Homo sapiens: one gene and its partner. The protein of the gene in region 1 interacts with the protein of each later gene in a biochemical or structural test. Each region holds a gene or a part of one and is shown on either strand. Other genes may lie near its edges.

Evidence for each region. The genes of interacting proteins can lie anywhere in the genome.
Region 2: the proteins of CACNB4 (region 1) and CACNA1A form a complex in vitro, tested with the Homo sapiens proteins (2 studies listed by BioGRID).

What each region holds. Positions count from the first base shown.
Region 1 is NC_000002.12:151,851,024-151,858,049, forward strand, and holds part of CACNB4 (voltage-dependent L-type calcium channel subunit beta-4), read right to left. Parts: intron 4,353-7,026; coding exon 4,201-4,352; intron 2,521-4,200; coding exon 2,425-2,520; intron 1-2,424. UniProt on the Homo sapiens protein: The beta subunit of voltage-dependent calcium channels contributes to the function of the calcium channel by increasing peak calcium current, shifting the voltage dependencies of activation and inactivation, modulating G protein inhibition and controlling the alpha-1 subunit membrane targeting.
Region 2 is NC_000019.10:13,503,463-13,510,360, forward strand, and holds the start of CACNA1A (voltage-dependent P/Q-type calcium channel subunit alpha-1A), read right to left. Parts: upstream 3,018-6,898; 5' UTR 2,763-3,017; coding exon 2,470-2,762; intron 1-2,469.

The DNA of each region.
Region 1 (7,026 bases):
CTTAGCAATGTGATACTCTGCCAATGTAATTTGCTGACTTTTCATACTGGAGATATGGTGGCCAATTAAGTAAGTCGCAAATTCTCCTAAAGGAATTAAAATGACACAGTGATCACCAATCTTTGGATGACAATTATAATTATGGTCTTGAAGTAAAGCAGGGGCAAATGCAGACACATTTTAAGGTTACTACTGGTTTTTATAATCCAAAGATTTCTTCACACATGCCAAAATAGAGGATACTATTCCTCCTCAGCATTACTACATCTGTGCAGTATCAATTGAACATGTTTAATAAAGTAAACAGTGTTTAGAAAATGCTAAGTACAAGGTAACCTTATCCATCCAGACTGCCTGTTTAAAATTCCAGGTTATCTTACCAATTATATAAAAAGATAAAGTGTTTATCCTACTGAGATAATGGTAAGGCAAGGCTGTCTTTCCAGTCATGGAGCTGTTTGAAATCTCTGACCTGGGTACAAGTCCTAAGGTAGCTCAGTATATTAGTTGCTTTTACAGATGCAAATATCTTTTCTTGATTCCAGCTATTTCAGATGTAACAAACCATATTATATGTACAACTACTCAATGATCAACCCTCTCAGCAGCTAAAATCCCTCAAATTTAATAGGACACAAGAATTTTCTCTAGTAATTATTAGAATAAATGTTAATAAACTTATTTTCATAAAGATAAAATTTCTCCAATAAATCTCTTGCATTTGTAATTCCATTTAGGTGTCTGCTTCCCAGAAGACCAAACTGATATAACTATCCTTATAAGATTGTTCCAAAAATTGGAAATAATAACATAGTTCCCGGCTTTTGATAGCTAGACAACAAAGATTATCTTCCTTCAACTGTGAAACATTAGAAGGTCAGGGCTGGGCAATACATTCCTCTGTCTGTTCAGTGCCTTAATCATACATTCCACTGTGTAATTGGGCTTCACTAACAGGCAGCGTGAAGTGAAACTTAACAGAGCACGCCATGCTCCAAGCTATCAAATTATCTTCAGGGTAGGTAACCAGGTACATGTGTGTATGGGTGGATGGGTTAGGGGGTAGGAAATTGTCTTTGGAGCCAGATAGATCTAGAATAGATTGAATCCTAATTTGCTATGTCACCTTAGGGAAATCGTTTAATGTCTCTGTTTTCAGTTGCCTAAACTATAAAATGGAGATAATATGGCCTATCTCACCAGGTAACTGTGAAGATTAGAGATAATCTATGTAAAGCATCTAGCACACTGTGTGGCCAACTGTAAGCATCTAATGAAAGGATGCATTATTACTCTTATCGTCTGAACATCCTTTCATTTATTCACTCATTCCACAAATATATATTATGGGTCTACTATGATAGGGAACTGACATACAACAGTGAGCCAGAGGGGCACGGGTTCTTACAGAGTCTACTGGACCAGACATGACGTCACACAAAGTGTATCCAGTAATTATAATAAGAAAACTTAGACGGTGCTTCTTATGTTCCTGGCGCTGTTCTAACAGCTTTACCACATATTCACTCACTCAATCCTTACACCAATCCCATGAGATAGGTACTTGCCCAAGATTACATAACTAGTCAGTGTGGATTCAAAACCCAAATATCTGGCTCCAGAGTCTGTGCTTTTACAGGTTATGCTGTGTTGCCCTCTCTAAACATTTGAATCAGATTTCATGCTTCCATAGAGCTTAAACAATCCTACACAAGTGTATAAAACAATCTAGTGAATCCATTGAGTAAGAAGGACAGTTATTTCCTTTACAGAAACATAGGCACAGAAATAGTAAGTCAGTGGGAAAAGTGGAGAGACTGGCCACTGGGGACCCAGTGCCATGTGATAGCAGTTCCATCTCCCACCCCATCCCACCATTGCTCACCTTCTAACCCAGCAGCTGTTTTCTGGCAATGGCACTAGAAGAAGAGTTGCTATAATTTCGTTTTTCATCTGACTCAGCCCTGACTCTTTCATCTACTATAACCACAGGGCCTCTCTAGTTCCAATCAATTCTTGACCTTCAGTGTCATAATCTTTTATGCCTGCTGGAATTTTCTTGCAGAAGAGTTAAAGGAAGATCAAATTGGTATGTTTTCTTTTGTTCTTTTCTTAAGCGTATCCATGTGACTGGAGGCTGAATGCTAAGTGGTTTGCTGCATGTTTGCAAAGCAAACAAGGTAGCAGTGAGAAGAACAGACCCCGGACACTAAGTTCATTTCTTATTACAAGGCAAACACCATCCACATCTGGATGCCTGAATACAAGCAACATAACAGCAGCAGTTTGTTCCAAGAAATCTTTTAGATGACAACATACCATCATCACCATCATTTTAGAATGAAAACAACAATATGAAGAAAAAAAAACCCACCCTCTTCTAACTAGTCAAGAATGATGAAGACAAAAAATGATCATACTTACTGGGGGGCATTGTGCAAGTTTATCAGCTGCCACCAGTTGAACATTCAAGTGTTTACTTTGTGACTTTCCTCTAGATTTAATCAACCGCTGTAAAACCTGATAGAAGAAGACATGAACCTGAGGTATTGTAGATGAGTTGAAAGAAAATCAAATAAGCCAGGATCTTTTTAATGGTCTGCTTGGCCCTGAGTATTATCAGAGAGGAAATGCAGTGTGAGAAATCATATATTTAAACCTGTAATGATGTCATCTGCTTACATTGGCTCTCAGTTCCATGGATTTGATATGTTCATCCTATTCTAACTCTGTGTGAAGTCTCAGGAGGAGCCTGAGTTCCCATCCTAGATTTTTCCCAGAGATTTCAAAGAGAGACCTGTAAAAATGGAGGGAGTGGACTGTACCAGGTCATTTATGTTAAGTAATACTTTAATATTATTCACCTGAATAATGTTTTAGCTCACTATCTCCATGTCAGATAAATGTCAGAGTCATTTTCTGGTTATTTTTGTCACCGATTATTAATGGGACATTTCAGTTTAATTTTAAATTAATCAGACTATTCTGTGATTGGAGACCCAGGCAAAACATTTGTATTAGTATATTGCTACATGTAAACCAGTGATATATCTATGTCTTTTGGCCACTGCTGTAACTGCATTTGGTCATATACTGCCATGTCCCGTGGCCCTTCCCCTGCAAACAATGCTAATCTATGAGCTCTATAATACCCCAGGACATAGGTGTCTGGGAACTCCTGTTCTTGCACTTAAGGACACCACAGTGTCATGGGCAGTGGGAAGGGCTGAACTCTCCTGCACTGCAGTGAAGTGCTTGAACCCCCAGCAGCTCTTTCAATCCATTCTACTGATTCTCAAAAGGCCCTAGTTTGTTCAGGATTCCCAAGTCCACTGCACCAAAGCAGTGTCTGCAGAGATAGATGGAAGGCTAGGATCTCAGAACATCTGGAGGAGAGTACAGCTTCTTTAGACATTCTCCACCCATGAGAGAAGACTGCCATGCTGGTTGGCAGTTGAATTTGTATTTAGGCACCAAAATACACTAGGAGGCACAGAGAAGAAACTGATTATTAAGATAGTACTTCCCAAGGGTAACCATTTCACGTTAACTTTTTAAGAACAACATCCTTTTTTAAAAATGAAAGAACACCCAAATCAAAAGAAACCAATTTGGGGCTATTTCACTTTTATTTTTACCTCCCACAATGGCATAAAGATACAAAGCAAATTTCCCATTGTGCTTATCGTGGAATAACCACATTCTTTCAAGAACTCAACCTAAGCACAAATGTCAGGGTCTATAATGCTTCCATAGGAGATGTTTAAACAGTGATATTCTATTTTATATATGATCAACATAGATGCCTTTTTTGATCAATATAGATGTACTCTCTCAACTAGGTACAGAGTATGGATGACACAGGAATCAACAGGATCCAAGAAATTTACCAATATAGAATTCATAGTCTATGATAAGCCAGAGTCTACTTTTCCACATCTGTCTTAATGTTTTGTTTCTATTATACACTTGCATAACTGTCTTGTTTGGGATCTACAATAGTAGCTTTTAGAAGAAATGAACTATTATATTCTTCACTATCTGAAAATTCATAGAATCTGTACACTGTGGAAAGATTTTAAATGTGCTTATTAATAATCAGCAAGACGTTCTCCTTTGTCCACTAACAAAAAACCACAGAGCAAAACACATTTTTAAAAGATGCACTTCTAAACCTTAAGGCAGAAAGGAGCTAATTACCTTTGGAGATGAGACTTTTACATGAACAATAATTGGTGCTAAGGAAGTCTTTATAAGTTGTGCTGGGTGATTGATGGTGTCTGCATCAAGAACAACCAGTTGCAAAGATCTTGCCAACTCAAAGATTCTTTCAATTTCACTTTGTACTTCCGCTTAAAGGAAAAATAATAAATAGATCCCGGTTATTGTTATGAATTAGTTCTTACATTAGAAAGATATAGTATATTTTCAGATATGTTGGTCTACATTACAAAATAAAACATTTTAAATTTTCATAGTCCTGTCTAATTTAAGACATTTTCTAAATATAGACAGAGATGGGTTGAGTTTTGCATACAACCAGTTGGTAGAAACGTCTGAGATGGCTCTCTTAATTTGCTTCTTCTAGTCAATATAATATTTAGCTGTTTATATAACTACGATGATTATTTTATGTTGTTTTTGATTGTTGTTTTGTTCTAAAGAACTTTAATGTTAGCCATAGAAGCTAAAAGCACATTTAGAAAACAACTGAAATATATGTGCAAAGCAACATCACATGGAAAGCAAATTACACTGAAATATTTCTATCAACGAAGTATAAACTAATACTTTGTGGACATGCTTCTTTTAAAAAAACCCCACAACTCATCTGTTTTGACTGATATGCATATTTTTGTACCACTGGTTAATTGTTCTGAGTCTACCCTTAAAACTAATCATATTACTAAGTCTAGTTAGATTTAAGTACGAAAGCCAATGTACTTGTTCTAAGGCATAATTAGCTTCAGTATTAAAAAAAAAAAAGTAAGGCCAATTATATTAAAACGCTGCAATGCATCTAGATGCAAATCTATCTGGCTGGCTGTAATAGCCAAGTGACCCAAATCTGTGCATGAGTCTAGTCAAATGAAAAATCTACTCTTTTCAAATGTCTGAAGCAATCCAGTTTTTTTTTTTTTTAAGGAAAACAGATAATCAACATAGGACATGGCTTTCTGAAATATAAAAAAGTTTTATATATATATATATTTTATAAATTACCTGACTTATTGGATCATGCCCAAAGTCTGAATTATACTATTTGATTTTCAGAGAAATTGATTTGTTTTCGTTTTTGAGACACAGTTTCACTCTGTTGCCTAGGCTGGAGTGCAGTGGCATGATCTTGGCTCACTGTAACCTCTACCTCCCGGGTTCAAGTGATTCTTGTACCTCAGCCTCCCACATAAATGGGATTATAGGCACACGCCACCATGCCTGGCTAACTTTTGTATTATTAGTAGAAGCGAGATTTAGCCATGTTGGCCAGGCTGGTCTTGAACTCTTGAACTCTTGACCTCAAGTGATGCACCCACCTTGGTCTCCCAAAGTGGTGGGACTACAGGCATGAGCCACTGTGCCCAGCTGATTTTGTTTTTTATTTTTATTTTTTGGCTATAGGTGTGACCAAACAATGCTGTAATCTGGTCCAAAGTACATACAGTACACAAAACTATCTAACTTAAATTATTATTATTAATTTTTAGAGACAGGGTCTCACTCTGTGTCCCATGCTGGAGTGCAGTGGTACAATCACAGCTCACTGCAGCCTCAACCTTCTGGGCTCAAGTGATCCTCCCACCTCAGCTTGCCGAGTAGCTGGGACTACAGGTGCACATCACTGTGCCTGGCTAAATTTTTTATTTTTTGTAGAGACTGGGTCTCACTAAGTTTCCCAGGTTGGTCTTGAACTCCAAAGTCCAAGCAATCCTCCTGCCTTGGCCTCCTGAAGTGTTGGCATCACAGGTGTGAGCCATTGTACCCGGCCTTAAACGACCCTAAAGATGGCCTAGGGAAAAAGGTAATGTTGCTCTAAATATCCTCATTGAAAAGTGTTTGTGATTTGCTTTGCTTATTTAGTATAAATTCAAGTTCACATAGCCCACCAAAAAATTCTCCCTTCCTTAACCAAAAGGATTGACAAGGTGTGCAGGGTCATGAATACTCAAGACTATCATGAAAATCTATTTTCTTATGTTTTGCATGATTGCATAAAATTCTTATTTCCCATAGAATCACTGAAGTTTAAGGCATGATCTGTATTAAAAAGGATTAATTTGAAGAGTCAACATATCACTTTTCATGTTATCCAATACCAATGGCCTGAAAGACTTCACATTGCTTGGAAAGGTGACTAGCTTTCAGAATATTAATGAAAACAAGTGGGCTTATTTGTCAAATTCTTCTGAAATCATATTCTACATTTGTTAGTAATGTAGCATATTTGTCCCCTTTTCTCTCACATGGCAGAAACAGTTTTAAAATAAATTTTCTTCAGAAGGAAGTTTGGAAAATAAAGTCAATTTTTACTGTAGTAAATTTCAGCCTCAGGATGTCAGGGTATGTTTCCCATTTGCTGTTTTCATTAAACTGTCACTGGCTTATGGGAGCTCCTGGCCAGGACTACATGTGAGCAAGCCTATGTTTTCTTAAGCTTCAAATATGAATACAATATTTTCAGAAGCAGCAGAAAGACATTGATGTGAACTGGACTGCCCTGGTACAAATAACCCTCAAGGCACTCTGAGTTTCTGTGTAAATGACTCAGAAATACCTGGGCCTTATTTACTCTGCACCAGCAATGAGGTTAAGTGTGGTTTCTGCCAGGAGCAAGGGCAGCCATACCTACTGCTTAACCAACACAAAACTCTTAGGCAACAGGCACTTGGGCAGAGGAAGAGAGGTGCTTGGGCAGAACAAGCCAGCAGGGATGCTGGAGAAGGCCACATTAAATACTGGGGTGAGCCCAATGTTTGGATAATATGTATACAGAATGTAATAAATATATTTTATCTGTGAGGCATA
Region 2 (6,898 bases), on another chromosome or scaffold:
GAAACATTTTTTTTTAATGGCAGAAATATTTAGATTAAAAAGTAGAATGTTCTGCCCTGGTATCGTGACTCTGACATTCCACGTGTCTTTCTCTTTACACTGGCCTGAATTCTTTTATTCACTACCTCCCTCCCCAGGTCTCTGTCCATCCCCTCTCATCTCCAACCCTCCCACCCACCCCGCCACCGCCCTCCGCTCCATCCAGGACAGAGAAAGCTCAGTCCTGGATGACCCAGCTCGATGACAGATTGTGAGGTGGGGAGTTTTCCCTTCCAGAGTAGGGCTGTATAATGTGTTTGTTACCTCGGGTCAAAGAGAACAAAAACAGTCTGCAGAGAGCATAATGCACAAACTCATCATAAGAGCAAGAAAGCCCCGGGCGAGCTGGCCAGAGAATAGATGAAGTGGCAAGCAACACTCGCAATTCACCTGCCTCCCTCTCCCACGATTCCCCCTTCCGAGGGGCCACTGCAATCCCCCTCTCCCCCAACAGCCCTCCAATCTGCAGGATTCAGGCTGGACAGAGGTAAGCTAAGGACACAGCAGAAGGGCTCCCCACCTCCTTCCTTTCCTCTTAGAAGTCTCCAAATCCAGGCTCCAGAAGGCGATCTAAAGCCATTTTCAATGAGGAAACCTGTCAGCCGAGCAAAGCCCTCTCACTCCTGGAGCTAACTGGGTGTGCACCCATGAATACCCTGTCCTCCTGCAAGGCACTCCCACTCCTCACTCTGTTGATAGGCAGAGTAATCAAGCCACCCCTGAGCACTTCAATGGGCCTGGGATGGTGAGGAATTGCTAACCTTAAGAACCAGCCTCTTTAAGAGTCTGAAACTTAGGAAGCAAAGACCTGGCACCTGCTTTGGGCACCAACGGAGATGGCATCGTAGTTAGAGGTATGCTCCCCTCAAAAGCACCTCTGCTGAACTTCTTAATTTTCCCCACCCTCAAAGTAGACCACTCACACACTCCAAAACCTCAGTGCCCTCTGTTGCAATCCCAGCACCCAGGATCCAAGCGCCAGGCTCGATTTTGAACCCCCCTGAAGTGAGTCCCTCTACCACCCGCCATGCTCCTCAAACAGCAACCCCCGGAGACCACACAGGGCCCAGCCCCGTTTAGTCTATAACTGCAAAACCACATACAAAAGGGATAGGGGACTCATCGCTGAGCCCCAGGGACCCATCCAGCCCGTTCATTTTTACACAGAGGGCAGCTGGTTGGAACTGTGCGGAGAAGCGGCACATCTGGGCATGGCACAGTGGCCAGCCAGCCTGGGCAGCAGGGTGTGTCCCCCCTCCTGGAATCTGGGTCATGCTTAGATAACTGCTAGAAAGCCCGACTAATTACCCACCCTTGCCTGCCTACATCTCGATAGATGTTAAGCCCTCCTCAAGGTTTATTTCAAGCAGGCAGGGATTTAAAGAAACACAGAAGATCTGCATTTTGATAGCATCTCCACAGAAGAAAATGTGGGCTTCACCTTTTTCCTCTGGATCTTTGATTAAAAAAAAAAAAATTTAAAAGGCATTTACCTACCTAAGATGTCCACATGGGTGCTGATTCTCCTGGTGTTCCCTCTCGGCTACTCGGGGTAGGAAAAGCTGGACATGGTGCTCTAAAATGGACCCACCACCTCATTTGCTGTTGCCCTGTCTTTCTTACTGAAAGTGTCCAGATCAGGTCTTCCCAGGCCAGGGGCCCAGATAAAGCAAGTGGGATCTCTTTCTCGACACCCCCAAAGATGATGAGGTTCCCCAATCAGCGGTTAAAGGCAATGGGACCTGCACACATGAGGGAAACATAAGCGCCCCCCAGCCCATCACTATCCTCTCCAGATAGGAACAGCGGCCCACCCTGGGGTACTCACTTCGGCCAGTGCTGGCTTCTCAGTGTGAAGGCCACATGGACTCCCTCTTGCTCTTAGCCCTGGGAGCCCCCAAGCGCCCTGCCCTAAAAGTGCGGCGGCCCCCCACCTTGGGGAAAGCAGTAGTGGAGAGGCTGTCCAGCTTCCCCTGCGTGGACTCCAGTGAGCGACGGCCAAGAAAACCCAACCAAGGCCCCCATAGTTCCCCTGCCCTGGCCAGAAGCGCCCAGGCCCGAGCCCGCTCCAAGCTCACTCCGTAGAACTCCAAACCCTCCGGACTTGGCTCGAAAGCCCCCACCAAGGCTCCTGCACGACCCCAGGCCCCAGATCTCATTCTAGAGTCGGTCCTTGGGAAGGATCCACTCTCCGCTGCCCACCCCCCAGCCCCCCACAAACCCATTCCCAAGCCTCCAGGGTAGCTCAACCCAGCTCGGGGTGGAGAGATTCTTTCACACTCCTCCCGGTGCCCCCTCTCCCAGCCCCTGGAAGACCCCCCTCCTCCCCACCTCCCATCAACCCCCGGGTCTCTCTCCCAGCCTGGAAGAGGGGAGGCGGAGGGAGGAGGGGGAGGCGCAGCTGCTGCTGGGGTTCGGGCAAAAGGATATGGCCATTCGGTGATCTTTTTGGCGTATTTTCTCACCACGTTGTCTTCGCTGAAGAGGAAGAGAGACCGGTTAACCGTGAGGCAGTTCTGTCGGACGGGGATGGGGTTGTAGAGTGCCATGGTCCGCGCTCTCTGCGCCATTGACTGCTTGTACATCCTTTGCGCCCCGGGCTGCCCGCCCTGCCGGCTGCCCCCGGCTCCTCGCCCGCCTCCGCTGCCCACGACCACCCCGGCGGCTGCCCCGGAGCCTCCTCCCCCGTAGCGGGCCGGCATCTCGTCTCCGAAGCGGGCCATTCTGCAAAGAGCAAAGGGCTCCGGGTTACGCTGCGGCGAACGATGCGGAAGACGCCGCCGCCGCCGCCGCCGCCGCTGATGCTGAGGCTGCCGGGGCTGGGAGCGCGGCGGCTGGAGCTACGACTGCGGAGACGCTCCACGGCCCAGCCCATCGGGCGGCGGCGGCTCGGCGCCTCGGGTCGGGGGCTCAGAAGGCGGCTGCCCGGGCCGAGCCGGGGATAGCAGCTCGGGACATCTTCCTGGCTGACCCCGGAGAAGGAGGGGCGGGAGGAGGGTGCGGGGGCGGGGCGCGGGGGCCCGGGGAGGAGGGGGGAGGGGAGAGAGAAGCGAGGCAAAAAATAACCGAGGAAGGAATCCAGGCAATCCCCAGTCCACCCACTCCGGAAAAAAAAAAAAAGAGACAGTTAAAAAAAAAAAATCCACCCAACGCACACCCCCTTTAAGACGCGAACGGTTTGCAAAGGACGCCCCCCCCGGGACGCAGTGGAAGCTTCAAATTCCTCCGAGGTCCGGGTCAGGCTGGCATCTTGCAAAAGGAGTGCGCTCGGCCCATTAAAAAAAAATAAAAAATAAAAAATAAAAAAATATATATATATTTAAAAATAAAGAAAGACGAAACCCAGGTCTGGGTGGGGAGGGCAAAAAAAAAAAAAAAAAAAATTAAGTGCCCTTCTGTTTTGCTGGAGTTCCTAGACCTTAAAAATGCTGAAAGATCTGTAGCTCCAAAAATAAAATAAAATAAAAACAAAGAAGATGAAAGGGAAGGGAAAGAGGAGGGAAGGGGAGTAAGACGCTCCAGAGGGTTCCTAAGGAGTCTTCACACCGCAGGGTCCAGGTTTAAAAAAAAAAAAAAAAATTTTTTTTCTTCCTGAATCACCAACGGCTGCCTCTTCTGCTCCCGGAGGAAGTGTGAGTGTGTATGTGCGCACAGCGTTTCGCTCAATGGTGCCTCATCTTGGGGTTAAATTGCAGCAGTGAAATCCTGAAAATTCCCAACAGGGGGAAAAGAGAGAGAGAGAGAGGTATGCGCCCTCCGCTTAGCCACTCAATAGCTGCCCCTGGATGCGGCAATGCCTCTCCACCCTCCAAATCCCTCCACCTCCTCCTTCTCTAGGTTTTGCTAAAATAAGACTGGTGTGGAGGGTTGCGGGTAGAAGAAGGTAAAGAGGAAAAAAAAATGGGCGCAAAGGTCTGAACCACTGGCCAGCAAACGGAAAAGGGGAGCAATTGATGAGTTTAACAGTAGAAGGACCCACCCAGAGTGTCGACACATGAGGGCCCGCGACCAATCGTGGAGGCTCGTGGAGGCGCGGGGGTACCGGGCTCAGCGGAGTTTGTGGGGGAGAGAGGGGAGCGTCGCATGGTTGGGAGGCAGGGAGGGGGGAATTGGGGTGCTTCCTCCTCCCCTGGGAGGAAAGCCTGTTTTCCACCCCGTTCCATTTCGGTTGCAGACAGCCGGACGCTCCCCAGCATCTTGCAAGGAGAAGGCAGGATGGAGGCAGGAAAAAAACTTAAAAGACAGAAAAGAGAAGGGGATTTGTGTCTAGAGGTGCGATTCGTCAGTCTCTAAACAAATTTGCTCTGTTTAGCAAAAGACCATTTTTGAAAGTGGAGAGAGTGGTTTGGGGTTACTTCTGTGAACGTTTCAAATCACAAGGACTCCTGCAAGTTGGAATTAAAGGTTTATTCTACCTTGGAGACCCCAGAGGTGACAAGTCTGAACTCCCAGGAGGAAATAATTAACCAGGTCCTAGTTGGCTGGATAGGGGTTCTGGGTGGTATAGTTTGCTTGATACTCACGTCTCTCCAGAACCACTTTGATTACTTCCCATTCTGCTTTTTGTGTGGTGAAATTCAATAAGCACAAAGAAAAATGCATAAAACATAAAGGTACGGAGTTAAGAAATTGGTCTGAAATGAACACTCATGAAATCAAGTCTAGGGCTAGAAATGGAACATCACCACCTCTGCAGAACCCCCTTTGCCAACACGCTTACACAGCCCCTTATTCCAGCAATAATCGCTACCTGACTTTATGGTATTCATATCTTGCTTTTTTAAAAAAAGTTTGACTACCTTATTATGCGTTCCTAACCAATACAATTTTACTTTGCTTCTTTTGGGCTTTTATATAAATGGAATAATCATATAGTATATATTCTACAGTTTCTTGTTTCTTCGGTTCAACATTATGTCTTTAAGATTCATCTGGCAGGGCACGGTGTCTGCGCCTGTAATCCCAGCACTTTGGGAGGCAGAGCATGAGGATTGCTTGAGGCCAGGGGTTTGAGACAAGCCTGGGCAATATAGCAAGACCCTGTCTCTCCAAAAACCTTTTTTAAAATAAAAATTAACCAGGCATGGTGATGTGAACCTAGTCCCAGCTACTTAGGAGGCTGAGATGGGAAGATCCCTTGAGTCCAGGATGTTGCAGTGAGCCAAGATCAAACCACTGCCCTCCAGCCTGGGCAACAAAGTGAGACTCTGTCAAACAAAACAAAACAAAACAAAAACAAACAAACAAAAAAAACAAGATTCATACATCCTAATCTGTTTCGAATTTTAGAAAAATTCACCTGTTTGTTGTCACACATGGCTGTGATTCATTCACTTTCACTGCTGTATAGTATTTCATCAAGAGAATATGCCACAATTTGTTTATCCATCATCTTGTTGATGGGTATCTGTTTTTTTTCCAGTTGGGGCTATTAAACATTACTGCCTCAGGTACCTTTGGTGCAGATAAGAATGCATGTCTCTAGGAATAGCCTTAGGTGTGGAATGTCTGGGTCCACAAGGTATTCATATCTTCAAGCTTATAAGATGTCATCAAACTGTCTTGCAAATTCAATGTACCAAGAAACCATTGAATTTTCATGGAGCTTGTATACGCAGAAAGGCCAAATGGAGAGGAATGGGAAAAGGATGAAAAAGGCAAATATTCTTTCAAGCCTTAGCTAGTTAAATCCTAGTTAATTCCCTTCCCCCCTCGCCACCCCACACACACATATCAATATTCGAGTTCTTTTGGAACACTCTGGAAAGATGATATGTCTTTATATAAAGTCCCCGTTCTGTGCCAATGCACCAACTATTATACATTGCCCCATAGCACTTTCAAGATTTTCTAACTTGTCACGATATGGATGAAATGATTAAACCAAGAGTGATTGGAATTGCAAGGAGATAGAATTGTGTGGGATTCAGGGAGAAGGAGGGGCTTTTAAGGCGCTCACCAAATATCAGTGATTTTTGTACTTGACATTGTTTCAGATATAAAAGGTGAACAGCAACTAATATGAAACAAGAAGCGAGCCCATGTGTTCAGATGGGAAGAACCAGTCATATGAGAGGAGCTGAGTTGAACTTATCATTTGTTCTGATGGACCTCTCTGAGAAGATTATTCAGTTTTAGAGCAGGAGCATTACCTGCATAGATCTGTGAAGACCCCAGAGTTTTTCAGGAAAGAGTGACATCTCACTGATGGAGCTCCTGCCAGGGTAAATCTCCCACTGAGTCTTCACAGCAGCCCCGTGGAACAGATGCAAACACTGAGGGTGAGGGAGACTTAAAAACTTTCCCAAGGTCACTAACGTGGATCTGAACCCATTTCTGACTCTTGTATTCTGTTGGACAGAGGGGAATTTGGTACAACCACTTTGGAAAACCGTTGGCTGGGTGCAGTGGCTCACATCTGTAATCCTAGTATTTTGGTGGGCAGAGGCAGGAGGACTGCTTGAGCCCAGGAGTTCAAGAGCAGCCTGGGCAACATAGTGAGACCCTGCCTCTACAAAAGGAAGGAAGGAAGGAAGGGAGGGAGGGAGGGAGGGAGGGAGGGGGGAGGGAAAGAAAGAGAGAAAGAAAAGAGAAGAAAGAGAGAAAGAAAAGAAAGAGAAAGAAAGAAAAGAAAAAAGAAAAGAAAAGGTCAGGAAATAAATAAATTAGTTGAGCATGGTGGTGCATGCCTATAGTCCCAGCTACTGGGGAGGCCAAAGTGGGAGGATTGTGTGAGCCCAGGAGTTTGAGGCTGCAATGAGCCAAGATCATGCACTCCAGTGTGGGAGACAGTCAAGTCTCAAAAAACAAACAACGACAACAAACACATAAAAAGAAAAACTTTTTGGTCATTTCTATT